Linked DNA regions of Homo sapiens. The protein of the gene in region 1 interacts with the protein of each later gene in a biochemical or structural test. Each region holds a gene or a part of one and is shown on either strand. Other genes may lie near its edges.

Evidence for each region. The genes of interacting proteins can lie anywhere in the genome.
Region 2: of the proteins of ATF1 (region 1) and MAPKAPK2, one has a biochemical effect on the other in vitro, tested with the Homo sapiens proteins (one study listed by BioGRID).

The regions. Positions count from the first base shown.
Region 1 is NC_000012.12:50,809,043-50,816,443, reverse strand, and holds part of ATF1 (cyclic AMP-dependent transcription factor ATF-1), read right to left. Parts: intron 6,989-7,401; coding exon 6,855-6,988; intron 4,824-6,854; exon of another isoform or gene 4,581-4,823; intron 2,458-4,580; exon of another isoform or gene 2,435-2,457; coding exon 2,252-2,434; intron 2,165-2,251; coding exon 2,005-2,164; intron 1,602-2,004; exon of another isoform or gene 504-1,601; intron 1-503.
Region 2 is NC_000001.11:206,679,904-206,688,093, forward strand, and holds the start of MAPKAPK2 (MAP kinase-activated protein kinase 2), read left to right. Parts: upstream 1-5,001; 5' UTR 5,002-5,326; coding exon 5,327-5,605; intron 5,606-5,730; exon of another isoform or gene 5,731-5,954; intron 5,955-8,190. UniProt on the Homo sapiens protein: Stress-activated serine/threonine-protein kinase involved in cytokine production, endocytosis, reorganization of the cytoskeleton, cell migration, cell cycle control, chromatin remodeling, DNA damage response and transcriptional regulation.

The DNA.
Region 1 (7,401 bases):
CACTGAATTTATTCCTTTTATCTTACTGTGTATGGGTTTGTACCCTTTAACTCTCTTCATCCTCCTCCTTGCCCCTCACCGTTCCCAGTCTCTGTTACCTATTTTTCCATTCTCTCTTTTTTCTTGAGATAGGGTCTTGCTCTGTTGCCCAGGCTGAAGTGCAGTGGTGCGATCATGCTGCCTCAACCCCCTGGGCTCAAGCAATCCTCCCACCTCAGCCTCCCGAGTAGCTGGGATTTTAGGCACACGCCACCATGCCTGGCTAATTTTTTATCTTTTGTAGCAATGGGTATGTTGCCCAGGCTTGCATTGAACTCCTAGGCTCAAGTGATCCTCCCGCCTCGGCCTCCCAAAGTGCTGGGATTACAGGCATAAGCCACCACGCCCAGCCCTATTTTTCCACTCTCTACTTCCATGTGTTCAAATATTTTAGCTCCCACATATAAGTGAGAATGTGATATTTTTTCTTTTTGTGCCTGGCTTATTTCACTTAAGATACTGACCTTCAATTCCATCCATGTTGCTGCAAATGACATGATTTAATTCTTTCTTATCCATTTATCCACTGATGGACACATAGTTGATTCTATTAGCTATTGTGCGTGAATAGTGCTGCAAGTAAACTTATGAGTACAGGTATCCCTCTGATATATTGATTTCTTTTCCTTTGGGTAGATTTCTATTTTTCGTTTTTTGAGAAGTCTCCATACTGGTTTTCATAGTGGTTGTACTAGCTAATTTTAAATTTTTGGGGGCTGGGTGCAGTGGTTCATGCCTGTAATCCCAGCACTTTGGGAGGCTGAGGCAGGTGGATGGATCACTTGAGCCCAGGTCTGAGACCAGCCTAAGCAACATGGCAAAACCCCACCTCTACAAGAAAAAAAAAAAAAATTAGCTGGGTGTGGTGGTATACATCTGTAGTCTCAGCTACTTGGGAGGCCGAGCTGGGAGGATCACTTGAGCCCTGGAGGCAGAGGTTGCAGTAAGCCAAGATTGTGCCACTGCACTCCAGTGTGGGTGACACAGTGAGACCTTGTCTTAAAAAAAAAAATCACAAAAACCAAATATAACTTTTCTACTTTTTGAACTTTTTTGTTAAAAATTAAGACACCAACACCAACATTAGCCTAGGCTAACTAGCCTAGGGTCAGGATCATCAATATCATTGTCTTCCACCTCCATACCTTATCCCACTGGAAGGTCTTTAGGGGCAATAACACACAGGGAGCTGTTATCTCCTATGATAACAATGCCTTCTTCTGGAATACCTCCTGTAGGGGCTGCCTTGAGGCTGTTTTACAGTTAAAAAAATTTTTTTTTTTGAGACAGAGTCTCACTCTGTTGCCCAGGCTGGAGTGCAGTGGCGCAATCTCAGCTTACTGCAAGCTTCGGCTCCCAGATTCATGCCATTCTCCTGCCTCAGCCTCCCGGGTAGCTGGGACTACAGGCGCCCGCCACCACGCCCAGCTAATTTTTTTGTATTTTCAGTAGAGATGGAGTTTCACCACGTTAGCCAGGATGGTCTCGATCTCCTGACCTCGTGATCTGCCCGCCTCAGCTGGGATTACAGGCGTGAGCCACCATGCCTGGCCTACAGTTAACTTTAAAAAAAAAAAAAAAAAAGTAGAAGGTATACACTTTAAAATAATGATTAAAAGTATAGTAAATTCATAAACCAGTAACATATTAACTTATTATAGTATCAAGTATTATGTTCTATACATAATTGCATGTGCTACACTTTTATATGATTGGCAGCACAATAGGTTTGTTTATACCAGCATTGCCACAAACGTGAGTAATGTGTTGCACTATGACATTAGCACAGGACTTTTTAGCTCCATTATAATTTTATGGGACCACCGTCATTCATTTATGTGGTCCATTGTTTACTTAAACATTGTCATGCAGCCCATGACTGTATACAGTTCCAGTTAACATCTGGTTATGTTGTGAGATTTGTAAAAACATTACCCATTCTGGTACTACGATTTTACTACCTACCTGTTTTTCATTAACCTTATTTCTCTTTTCAATTGGGGGTCATCTGTCTTAGTTGTCTGAGAGGTGAGAGTCACAGGAGATGTCATCACCACAGTTTGTGGCAGAGAAGTAGCTGAAGGTGTAGTTCGGATCTGATATGTTTGCATATCTCCTGATGCAGCTAGATGGTAAACAAGAGTGAATGAGTTAGTTAGTAAGTGTCTCTGACAGTGTTAGGAGACTTTCTGTAGACAGAAAGCATACTTACTTTGTACGACCACCTGATTGCTGGGCACAAGTATCTGCTGTCCATCAGAGGTCTGTGCATACTGAAGAATAGTTGTACCTTGCTGAGTACTGCCTGAATTTGTCATGGTTAATGTCTGAAGTCCCTGTACTCCATCTGTGCCTGGACTTGCCAACTGTAAGGCTCCATTTGGGGCAATGGCAACTTTAATCAAAAAGAGAAAATAGCTATTGTAAGGTTATATAATACACTAATTCAAAGGAGTGGCAAAAAGCCCACAAACACTATTTACTAAAACAGGTATGAATGCACTTCTACTTGGTAACTGCAGACTACTTTACTTTAGGTGAACTACATGTAAAAGGAATAAAACAGCATTTCTTTTTTTTTTTTCTTTTTTGAGATGGAGTCTCGCTCTACCGCCCAGGCTGGAGTGCAGTGGCACGATCTCGGCTGGCTGCAACCTCTGCCTCCTGGGTTCAAGCCATTCTTGTGCCTCAGCCTCCCAAGGAGCTGGGATTACAGGTGTGCGCCACCATGCCCAGCTGATTTTTATATTTTTAGTAGAGACGGAGCTTCTCCATGTTGGCCAGGCTGGTCTCAAATTCCTGACCCCAGGTGATTCACCCGCCTCAGCCTCCCAAAGTGCTGGGATTACAGGCATGAGCCACTGCACTTGGCCCCATGATAGTTAATTTTTAAGAAAAAATAAAAAGGAAACATAAACATAGTTTGTAATTTTGAGTCAAAAGCATTAAAAATATTATTACTTTAAAATATTTCTGAATAGATAACATGCTTATGGAAAAAATTCAATAGAATAAAAGGTTATATAATGAGAAAATAAGTCATCTTTATATGGTTTCTTAGCTTCATTTTCTAGTGGTACCACTGTTAAATGTATTACATGTTATTAAGATATTTACTTAAGTGATAGTTAAGAAATGTAATCTATTCATTTACTTCCTAGTGAAAATCACTAATAAAGATAGCAGAAAGCCACTGTGTAGAAAATACTACTTAGCTCCCCACAAACATTTTTTCACTGAATTATACCTGTGTTCATGCTTTCTCCTCAGCCCTTAAATGCCCATAAGGCATGATCAAATAGAAAACATTTTAGCATTATTCAATTCCCATATACTCTTCAGAATCGAATGCCTCATCTCTGTACCCTCTTTTCAGATTACAGTTATGAAACATTTTTTTTTCCTTTTATGCTTTGGCTACCAGGAAGCCAAAATACATGTATATGTATATGTGTGTGATGGAAAAATATTTTTTTTCACGCATTCATAATTATCCCTCCCCAACTGCCCCAACTTTAATTTATGAGTTTCAAAATATTTTTTTAAATGTTAGATACAGGGATATGTTGGCTATTTTTTTTGAGACAGGGTCTCACTTGTCACCCAGGCTGGAGTGCAGTGGTGTGGTCCTGGTTCACCACTGCACTCTACCTCCTGGGCTCAAGCAATCCTCCTACCTCAGCCTCCCAAGTAGCTGGAACTATAGATGCACACGGACATGCTCAGCTAATTTTTAAATTTTTTATAGAGATAGGGTCTCCCTATATTGCCCAGTCTGGTCTTGAAATCAAGTGATCCTCCCACTTTGGCCTCCCAAAGTGCAGGGATTACAGGCGTGATCCAACACGCCAGGCTGAGATTTGCTGTGAAGTTATATTAGCAATTAGTTTCAATCTTCTTCCCTGCAACACATTATTATATACATATATACACATACACATTTATTTATATAAGTATCAACATAAATAAAATTAAAGGTCCCATTATCTATCTCTATTTCATTTTCCCCCTTTTACCGCCATCCTGAGATAATTATTGTTTTTGGTGCACATCCTTCCCATTATTTTCCTGTGCTTATACAGACTTATATACTTTTGCCATTATGTTCAGTGGTGAAAACTGCAATTTCTTTTACACCAACCTAATATATCAAAATACATACCTGTAGATGCAAATGTTTTGATATTAAATATGTGTGAATACATATTTTCATTTTTGCAACATATCTTCCTGTTCTTAACATGTGTATTTACCTGTTAATGTGCTGTATTTATTCTAAAACTGAGCTGTCTGATAGGGTATTAGCTCCATGTGGCTATTTAAATTAACTAAAATTAAACAAAATTAAAATTTCAGTTTCTCAGTCCCACCAGCCATATTTCAAGCACTCAACAGTCACACATGGTTTAGTGGCTACTATTCTGGGACAATGCAGATATAAACATTCCCATTATCATACGAAGTTCTATTGGCCTATGTTGCCCTAAATACTAGTTTGTACTACACTTATTTCAGTGATAACATGTGAACCTCCCCACTACCTCTGATCTCTGCTCCCAAGCTTCTTTCCTTGCAACCACTGCTCCCAGTTTCTTTCTTTCTTTCTTCTTTTTCTGAGACTGGTCTTGCTCTATTGCCCAGGCTGGAGTGCGGTGGTACGATCACGGTTCACGGTAACTTCGAACTCCCAGACTCAAGAGATCCCATTTCAGCCTCCCGAGTAGATGGGACTAGTCACATGCCATGATGCCCGGCTTTTTTTTTTTTTTTTTTTCTTCATTTTTCTGTGAAGACACAGTCTTGCTATGTTGCCAAGGCTGGTCCTGAATGTGGCTTCAAGCAATCCTCCAGCCTCAGCCTCTCAACGTACTGAGATTACGGACATGAACTACAGTGCCTGGCCCCCAGTTTCTCAAGAGGTATTCTATATATATATTATTTAATTAATTCATAACAAACAACTGAAAGCCTACTATATGCCAGGTCCTATATGTCAAGGATGTAGTTGTGAATGAAACAAAAGGTTCTTTCCCTTAAGGATCTTATATTCTAGTGGGGAAAACAGATCATGAATAAGCTAATCTATAATTACATACATACAATCTATAATTAAACTAATATGTACTGACTTAGTTATATGTAAATGCTATAAAGAAAAATATAGGAGGTTAAGGGAAACTAAAGGGAGGAGCCACATATTTGAAGAGAGTGGTCTCTTTGTGGAGGTGACACTTAAGCAGAGTAGCCACATAAGGATCTGGGGGAAGAACATGCCAGGCATGAGCAATGACAACTCCAGAGATCCTGAGGCAGAAACAAGCTCGTGTGTCTGAGGTACAGTAAGGAAGTCTGGGGTGGTCAGAATGCCACCAAGTGGCAGGAGATGAGGTCAGAGTGGTAGGCAGATCCTAAATGTAATGCCTTGTAAGATCCGGATTTTATTCTAAGTGTGATAAAATGTCACTAGAGGATTTTGGGCAGGAGCGATGTGATCTAGTTGACATCTTAAATAAATCACTTTGGCCACAGTATGGAAAACTGATTATTAGAGCAAGAATGGAAGCAAGATGACCAACTGGATGCCTACTTCAGTAATTAAGATGAGAGCCTAAACCAAGGCGGTGGTGGTTGGAGACGGCAAGAGGTGGTCAGATGGGACATATATTTTGTGGCAAGACTGAATGAAACAGATTAATGTTAGGAGTGGAGGGGGAGATAACAAATGGGCAGCACAAGTAAATTCGTTAGGGTGACAGAACTCAATCTTGATTGGCGGTGTTATACTATTCTACACATTTGTCAAAACTCATAGACTTAAACTCCCCAAAGAGTGAATTTTACTGTATATAAATCAAACAATAAATATTTTTAACGAATAGGCAGGGGCCAGGCGTGGTGGCTCACGCCTGTAATCCCAGCACTTTGGGAGGCCAAGGTGGGTGAATCACTTCAGGTCAGGAGGAGTTTGAGACCAGCCTGGCCAACATGGTGAAACCCCGTCTCTACTAAAAATGCAAAAATTAGCCAAGCGAAGTGGTACACGCCTGTAATCCCAGCTACTTGGGAGGCTGAGGCAGGAGAATCACTTGAACCCGGGAGGTGGAAGTTGCAGTGAGCCGAGATCATGGCACTGCACTCTAATCTGGGCAACAGAGCGAAACTCCACCTCAAAAAAAAAAAAAAAAGCCAGGAATGTTCTGAAAGGAATTATACTAATATAATATACAGCAATTATGTACGGAACTACATAGATATAAGAATGAACAAAATAAGGCCAGGCGCAGTGGCTCATGTCTATAATCCCAGCACTTTGGGAGGCCAAGGTGGACGGATCACCTGAGGTCAAAGTTCGAGACCAGCCTGGCCAATATGGTGAAACCTCCTCTCTACTAAAAATACAAAAATTAGCCGGGCGTGGTGGCACACGCCTGTAATCCCAGCTACTCCGGAGGCTGAGGCAGGAGAATCACTTGAATCGGGAAGGCAGAGGTTGCAGTGAGCCAAGATTGTGCCACTGCACTCCGGCCTGGGCAACAAGAGCGAGACTCTGTCTCAAAACAAAACAAAACAAAACAAAACAAAACAGTATCTAATGTTGTAGGTCTCAGTTCCCTCATACATTGATAATTGCCTATGTCACAAAGTTGTTATAAGGAGTAAATAATGCTGAAACAGTACTTCGCATTATTCCTGGCTGAAAACATCCTTTAATAATCATCACTATCAAAGTATTACAGTTTTCCTAACACCATTTCTTTCTACAGAAAAGTCAGGTTTTGTGTGTTTATAATGTGGAAACTGATTCCTATACATACTGTACTGTCCGCTGCTAGTCTGATAGATGGGAGTTGGAACAGACATAGAAGTGACAGCAGCAGAAACTCCAGAATTTTCTCCGTCTCCTTTTCTGCCCCGTGTATCTTCAGAAGATAAGTCTTTCAAAATTTTTCTGTAAAAAAAACCAGAACTCTATTAAACATTGGTAATGTGAATGACTTCACAAAAATAATTTTTTTTTTTTTTTTTTTTTTGAGACAAGATCTTGCTTTGTCACCCAGGCTGGAGTACAGTGGCGCCATCATGGCTCACTGCAACCTCTGCTTCCCTGGCTTAAGAGAGTCTTGTGCCCCAGCCTCCCAAGTAGCTGAGACCAGAAGTGTGAGCCACCACACCCAGCTAATTTTTGTATTTTCAGTAGACACGGGGTTTCACCATGTTGGCCAGGCTGGTCTTGATCTCCTGGCTTCAAGTGATCCACTCATCTCCTCTTCCCAAAGTGCTGGGATTACAGGCATGTGCCACCATGCCCGGCCACAAAAAGAAATTCCTAAAACTTTTTCAATCTCAGGTAAAAGTTATAAT
Region 2 (8,190 bases), on another chromosome or scaffold:
GCCGTGGCATTAAACTATCAAAGGATGAAGTGCAGATGAGGGCACGGAGGGCACCAAGGGCACCGTGGGTGGGGGAAGGATTTTTCCCCTCTGGGATGTCTTAACTAGGGCATTACCAATGGCACTTGCTATGGGTAGAATTCCTTTCTGTGAGGCAGCCGTTAACACCTTCAGAAAGAGCTAAGATAGAAGGGATGATAGAGGCCATCCTGACCAATATTTTGAGGTCATTTTCTGGGTCAGAAATTTTTGTGACTGAGTCTTATGTATATATATCTGTCACTTTTGCTTTGGGGGAATTTCTCATTTTATCACAGAAATACTAGCCTATGACATGAAGACTATTTCTCTCTGGCTCTAAGCCATTTTTCTTTCCAAGAGTGGGTTTTTAGTGGACAGAGCTTCTTCTGTAAATCATGCTCCTTCTTGCAATATTTTGTTTGCGGTACTAGCAGTGGATACAAAGGCTGCTTTATCTGTGTTCATGCGCAGATCCGCCAGCCTGTGGATGATCCTCACTCATCAAGAGAGTGTTAGCTGAAAATTTCCAAGAGATCCACCTCCATAAATTTCCACCCTCTGTCACTCATTCATAATGCCACGTCATAGTAAAACAGGAAACTTTTACTCCATGATGGTGTGAAGGCTGTGTGGGGGAATCTTGAAGAAAAAGATTGTCACAATGTATCCTATCATATAACCCAGTCATGCAAATTAACATAGACCTATATTCTGTAACAGATTAGGCCAAGATGGAAGGAAATTGAGGTGTGGAAAATTTATGTTGCTCTAAAATGGAAAGAATAGCCCATACCTCTTCAGGCAATTCCTGCCCAGAAATAGCAGATATCATATTTCTGACATTAAGAAGGATATGTGAGTATATGTCTGCTCAGGATCTATAGTAAGGACCATGAGCATGGACTTTGGGTCAGAAAGATTTGGGTCCTGTCCTTCGCTAGTGGAATGACTCTGAGAAAGTTATTTAATTTCTCTGGGACTCAGTTTTCTTGTTTATACAACAGATAAGTGAGGATAACAGTACAGACCTCATAGGGCTGTGTAAGAGTAGGATAAGGTTTGGCTGTGAATGATAGAAAACCTAGACCATCAGTCACTTCAACAAGAAGGCCATTTATTGTTCTTTCATATAAAAGTCTGGGTAGGTGGCTCATTGCTGATATGATGGATCCAGGTTCACCAGTATACAGACTCTTTCTGTCCTTTTGTTCTGTCTTCCTCAACCTGTAACCTCCAATTCACCATCCAAGATGGCTACAGCTGTGAAATTTTTATTCCAGTCAGCAGGAAAGAAAAAAGAGAAGGAGAAGAAGAAGGACATACTTCTTTCCATAAACCACTTCCACTTACAAGTCATTGGTTATAACTTAATCTTATGAATGTAACCGGCTATAGTGGAGGCTGCTCAAGTGGGAAATGTAATTTTTATTCCAGGCAGTCTTGTGCTTAGCTAAATATGGGGTGCTCTTTACTATCAAAGAGAGGAAAAAAAGGTGTTAGCCCACCCAACTAGCAATCTCAGCCACGGATCATCATGAGATTTAAATGAGACAATGCAGGTAGAGGGTTGAGCACAGTGTTGGGCACTCAGGAAGCACTCAAAAAACATTGTCATCGTCATCATCATCATCATCATCAACATCATCATCACCATCATCATGAGAAGGTGAGGAATACTTTGAAACTGTGACAAGGCATTTTCTTATTTTAACCTGGTCTTGCTGCTAACATCACCCTTGGCCACCTCCCTTTTAAGGTGATTTGAGTTTCATCTTTTATGATACCTTTGAACATGCCTTCATGAAACAAAACTATATAAAAAGGAAAGCAAGGGAAAGGTGAACATAGGACTCAGGATGATGGGGTCTTGGGCCATGAAAATGGAGGGGTTGGGGGAGTGTGTGTGGAGGAATCATCTAGTTAGATGTAAATTATTGTCGAAGTTCTAGTTTTTATTTTGGGTAGTGGATTCACAGGTGCTTACTGCATTATTAAAAATAATTATTAACTAACAATAAAAGTGGAGCTGCATGGATCAATGATCCAATGACGAGAGTGTGTCATGAATCAAGGATTATAATTAATCCATTTCTATGTACCTGAGGTCCTTAAATTGTCTTTGTGTGTACTATATTGCATGGCATATGTGTTTGCATGTTAATAGTAGATAAAAATAGTACTTTCTATTTGCATAGACTTTCAAGTTTTAAAGCGCTTTTACACATCCATAAAAACTGTTTATTAAGTAGTTCATTACAGATGGCTAAGAGCCTGGTGTTACACAAATAGGACTTTGGACTGCTTCCTGTAGGAAAGTTTTTATTTTATCCTTGCACAAGCCCTACAAAGTAGGCAAGGCAGATGTTATTGTCACTATTTTGCAGATGAGAAGGAAGGAACTGAGAGAGCAAGGGGCTCTCATGAGGTTACATAGCGAGTCAGTATCAGAATGGAACTTAAGACTCAGGATCTCTTGGCCAGTGCTTCTGCATTTAGCACATCTTACTCCTCAATTATTCATCCACTAGGCGTTTATTCTGTTACATGGCACATTGTGCTCATGTGTTGTGTTCATATATGTGTGTGTTTTCTGGTGCTGTGTGTGCAGTTCATATAATCTCTATCCACTATGTATGTACCCTCAGAGTCCCTGTGTGCCCCCTAGGCCTATTTGGCTCTTGCAGCTCCGGGAGGACTCTCAGGTGGGAATTCAGTTGTCCTGTTATTCCTAGATCATTGGGCCTCACCATCTCCCTGGAGCTCCAGCTAGGTAGGAAAGCAGCTTTGATATCAGGAATAGATCCGTAGGCCATGAGCACAGAGCAGAGGAGCAAGCCAGCAATGTCTAAATAATGGTGATATTTAATATTTCATGATAATGTATAGTTTATGCTTTAGGATGTGTTCTCATAATTACTATTTCATTTTATTCTCTCTCAGCCCCGAAAGTAGATTTTGTTGTTTTTTTCTTTTCTTTTTCAGATGCTGAGAGATGTTACATGTCTTGCTCAAGGTAACCCAGTTGGAGGACAGTCTTGGCTTCAGCTCATTTGTCTCTAGATCCTGTCATCTTACCACTGTGCCTTGCTGCCTCTGAAAAGGCAGAAGGAAGTTATTCTCTTTCTAGCTTTGTGGAGAAAAGCAGGTGATACCTCAACACCAAGCCATAGGGAGCTTCCAGTGACTCTGCAAAGAAAAAAAAGACCAACTCAGACTCCAGAGCAGCCCCACCAGAGCCTGAGCAGTTGGAGCCTTCCACCTTCCCACCCCTGCGTTCCTCTTGTCCTTGGGCATCTCCTGTGTGTGCTTCGGGGAGGTGATAGCAGTGCTATAGAAGTAGTGGAGTGAAGATGTTTTCCTATCCCCGTGGCCTTAGATAGTGTCTTTGTCTTTGAAGAGTCAGGGGCATCTGGGGAGCTGTCTAACCGTATCTATCCTGTAGACTCGGGAGGAAGCTGCTGGCTGCTGTAGACAGAAGAGAATCCCTGTGCTTCGGGCTCCTAGGAAGGTGTCTGCCATCCTCTCTGTGCCACTGTTATCTGTCTTCTTCCCCATCAGATAACACCATCCACCGCTGCAGGGCTGAGCACGGCACCTTGTACATGGAGCTAAGCAGATGCTGCTTGAGAAGAGCATATGTTTGTGTCGGGGGAAACATGTCTCTCCTTGGTCCACAGAGCCCTACCTGCCCCAGGAAAGGACAGTGTTGGGAGGGTAACTCCCACCCCTCACTCCTCCCCCTCATTCCTGCCTCCACAAGCATCTTCTGGGAAAGGTGAATGAGGGAAGAGACATTTGCACTTGTCCCTTACCTACCTAAGTTCTATCCCCAGTGGCCACTTCTGGGGGTGTTGTCTTCTCTCTGGAGTTTTGGGGGACCTATTAGGGGGCATGTGTGGCCATAGGTCAAGCCTCATTCTCTAACTGGCCTTACCAAGACTTAAGCTGAGGTTTTGTGTTCACCTGTCTGGGTTGCTTGCCATTTCTCAAATGTTCTGCCAGTCAGAGGTGGGAGGAGGTCGGCAGGAATGTACTTGGTCATCTCGAACCCCATCAGAATGTGTGTGGAGGCCTCCTGGCAGCTTCTATGCAGGGTCCAGCTAGATCCCTGGGCTTTTCCTGAGATACACGGGGCTAACCCACTTCTTACGGATTAATTTTTCCACATCGGAAATCAGAAGCCATTCCCCAGGGCCTCCCCTTCAGTTTCATTATCTCCTTTGACTCTGCCCACAACCTTTGAAAAGGTCTCGCTGTTCTTCCCACGGAGAGAGAGGTGCAAGGCTTGCTCAGCCTCACACAGCCAATCCGTGGCAAAGGATGGCGGGAATTCAGGTGGCCCCAATCTCAACCCATCCTCTTCCCACCCTGTATCCTTTTTAGTTTATTTACAGGAAAACATGTTCAAAGGTATAATTACTAAAGTGCTCCTGGTTACACAATAATACGTCTTTACTGAAAAACAATAAATTAATGAGAAAAGAGATGCAAAAAACCTCAGAGGAAAATGTTGAAGTTAGGGAAATATTTAATACGCCCGCCTTTGGCTCACACCTTTTCCTGGGATGAATGACCCCTGTGATTCCAGCTCCCCCCCACCCCCACGAGGTCTCATCTAGCTGGATACCTACAAGCCATCCCTGTCCTTGGAAATACACCCCTCTCCCAATTCGCTGCCGCTAAGAAGCCCAGACAATTGGAGAGGAGTGGATTTTCCATCTGAATTATGCAGCTCCTTTGACACGCCTCCCCTCTCCCTTTGCATAGCCTTGGTTAAGAACTAGCATTTCTTCGTCCCCTCTCCCTGTCCCCTCTCACTGTCCGCGAGGCAGCAGCCCCCAGCCTACTCCGCGATCCTCCCAGCTCCCGGCACCGCGCGTCCTCCCCTTTAAGGCCCGCCCCTCCCCCCACGCCACGCCTCCCCAGGCCCCGCCCCCCGCCCCTCCCCTTTAAGGACCGGCCCCGGACGCAGACGAGGCTGTGACGCGGCCGCCGGCCCGGGGCTGGGTACATTGTCGCGCGGCCGCTTCCCCCCGGCCGGGCCCCCGCCGCCCCGCGGTCCCCAGAGCGCCAGGCCCCCGGGGGGAGGGAGGGAGGGCGCCGGGCCGGTGGGAGCCAGCGGCGCGCGGTGGGACCCACGGAGCCCCGCGACCCGCCGAGCCTGGAGCCGGGCCGGGTCGGGGAAGCCGGCTCCAGCCCGGAGCGAACTTCGCAGCCCGTCGGGGGGCGGCGGGGAGGGGGCCCGGAGCCGGAGGAGGGGGCGGCCGCGGGCACCCCCGCCTGTGCCCCGGCGTCCCCGGGCACCATGCTGTCCAACTCCCAGGGCCAGAGCCCGCCGGTGCCGTTCCCCGCCCCGGCCCCGCCGCCGCAGCCCCCCACCCCTGCCCTGCCGCACCCCCCGGCGCAGCCGCCGCCGCCGCCCCCGCAGCAGTTCCCGCAGTTCCACGTCAAGTCCGGCCTGCAGATCAAGAAGAACGCCATCATCGATGACTACAAGGTCACCAGCCAGGTCCTGGGGCTGGGCATCAACGGCAAAGTTTTGCAGATCTTCAACAAGAGGACCCAGGAGAAATTCGCCCTCAAAGTAGGTCTGGGGCCCGGGGAGGGGAGGCGGGGCCGGTCCCGGGCCCTGGAGCTCCACGGCGTCGGGTGCCCGTCCCGGCCTGGGTCGCGGCGCGGGGCGGAGGGGTGGCCGCGGCGGGGCGGGGCGGGGCGGCCGGGCCGGCGGTGCCGAGTGCGGCGCGGGCGGCGGGTCCCAGCGCCCTCGCCTCCCTGACCGCTTCCGGCCGCTCCCGGGCGGGAGCCCTGGGACCCGCTCCTGGGGACTCAGGGGACCCTGCCATTTTGGGGTTTGAGCGGGATCCAGCCGAGTCAGAACGGTTGGCTTCGGGACTTCTGCTAATTTCACTCCATCTCAAGGAAGTGATTTTGGGGTTGGTGGTTCCCCGTCCTCTCCTCCCTCCTTTTTCTCTCTCTGCGGGCACAAAAGGCCCATTACTCATTGAGCCGGTTGGTCGGTTGGTTTGGAGAAGTCGGATCGCAGAGGTTTATTTAGCCTCGCTCCTTATTTGGGAGCCGGAATGTGTGATTTCACTTCCCCGAGCCTCGCGAGGGCAGCCGGGCCGCCTTGGGGCGCGCCGGGCAGGAGGTGTGCGGCGGGAGGGTCCTGGGTGTCCCCCGGCTGCGGGGGCGGGATTATTTGGATCCCGGAGCTGGCCCCCTCAGCTGGCCCCCTCCCACGCCCGCGCGGGGCGGCTCCGGGGAGAGGCCGGCGGTGTCCGCGGCCCGGCTGATCATTGTGAACAGAGTCTGTAACCCGCGGCCGGGCCCGTGCTGATTCCGCCTCCTAGAGAGGGCCACTTGCTGTCCTGGACTCGCGCCGTGATGGGCAGTCTGAGGAAACATTATCCTTGAGCCGGGGGAGCCCATCCCTTTTCTTTCTTTAAGGGGTGTGGTGGTGGGGAGAATAAGGATTCAAGTGAGAATATCGACTTCAGAAGTTAAACACAATGGACTGGGAGGTCTCATGAGATGGGTGGGTCCGCAGTGAAGTGTGAGCCGGTCTTGCAGGGTCACCAACAAGGTTTTCCTCTCACAGGGGTTTCAGGTCAAACCAATCTCTAAAGGTGACGCCTCAGGTCTGTTTCCCCTGGGGTGTCTCAATGATTGGAGGAGGAGAAAAATACTTCCTGTGTTATATTTTTCTCTTCCCCTTCAGCCCCCACAGCGAGCTGTATTTCAGTTGTCAAGTACAAAACTCAGAAATGTGGTATGGGTGGAACTATTGGAATATACGATCAGATGTTTTAAAAGAAACACCAGTACTTCGGGGTTGTACGGGGCAAGCATGTTCCATTTCTAGATTTTAAGGCCTCTAGAATTGTTTTCCTGCTGCTCTCATACTCAACCCTGTTACAGTGCTTTGCTTTCTACTGTAAGTTATTGCTCTGGGATCTCGGTTGTTGTTTAGTGTTGACTGTTGGAGAGGGGATAAGTATCTTCAACACTTCAACATTTGTGTCTTAGACTTCTCTTTCCCTACTCATAACTGAAGGGAAAGGAGGAGGAGGAGTTGTTTGGATTGAGCATGGCTCTGACCTTGGGGACTGGAGTTGGGTGAATACAGTTTGACCACAGTTAACCTGTATCATTGAGGAAGTGACAGACGGTCTTTACAGGAGTGTTTGCTGTCCCCTCTGAGACACCATCTGCCTTCACCCATTAGTAGTTTGGGGACACTGGCTGTTCATTCTCTTGGATATTTGGAATATTATGTAAAGACTTCAGAACAAAAGCTCCCAACTTCTGCTCTGTATTCTGTTTAATAGACACACGCACAAAATCATCCTATAAAATGCTTTTGAGTGGCAATTCAGATTTCTCTTGTAACTAACGAGAGAGAGGTTTACATATTTTTCTACTTTGAATAGTTTTGGAAGGAAAAATCCAGCAGCGTGTTAAATAACACTCATAGTTTATCCCTCTCAGGTTAGAAGTGGGCGAAGAGTGAAGTCAGTCTGTTTTGACAGGCAGCCTGCTCCCAGATCTTTTAAGTTGACTCAACTGTTAAATTGTGGATTTCCCACACACGTCTTTGTGTTAAAACTTAATAATGGAGGAAGAAAGGAGAGACAAGGCATTTGGAGACTGACAGCAGTGTTAACAGCACTTCCATATCCAAATATTGGCTGAGACATAATTACAGCTGTGGGGGGAATCTGGTTCAAAGAACGCTGTTCCAGAGACACACACCAAAGAGATTTCTAGATCTTGAATTTTGATTAACCTCAGGTGCTGAGTAGTGAAATGGTTTTCAAAACCAGAAGTCTAGTGATTATAAAGCAGGAGAGGAAGATGGAGTGGGGCAAGAGGGATTACCCCCTTGGGAAGGTGCCTGAGAAAAGGGGAGGAGACCTCTATTCTACAGTGTGCCGAGGCCAATGCTGGGGGCTAGGGCAGAGCTGGAGGGCAGGAGCCCAGCCTCTGCTGGGGTTCAGAAGTCTGCTATGTTGCAGCCCTGAGAGTTGATGGGAGCTGGCAGCTGCTTAGATGCTCTCCTCTCTGCCTATAGTCGGTGACCTCTTAGCCCTGTTAAGTGAAATCAGCATTTGAAAAAGAGTCCCAGCTCACCCTGCTGCTTCTCTCCCTCCACCTCAGAGAGCTCCCATT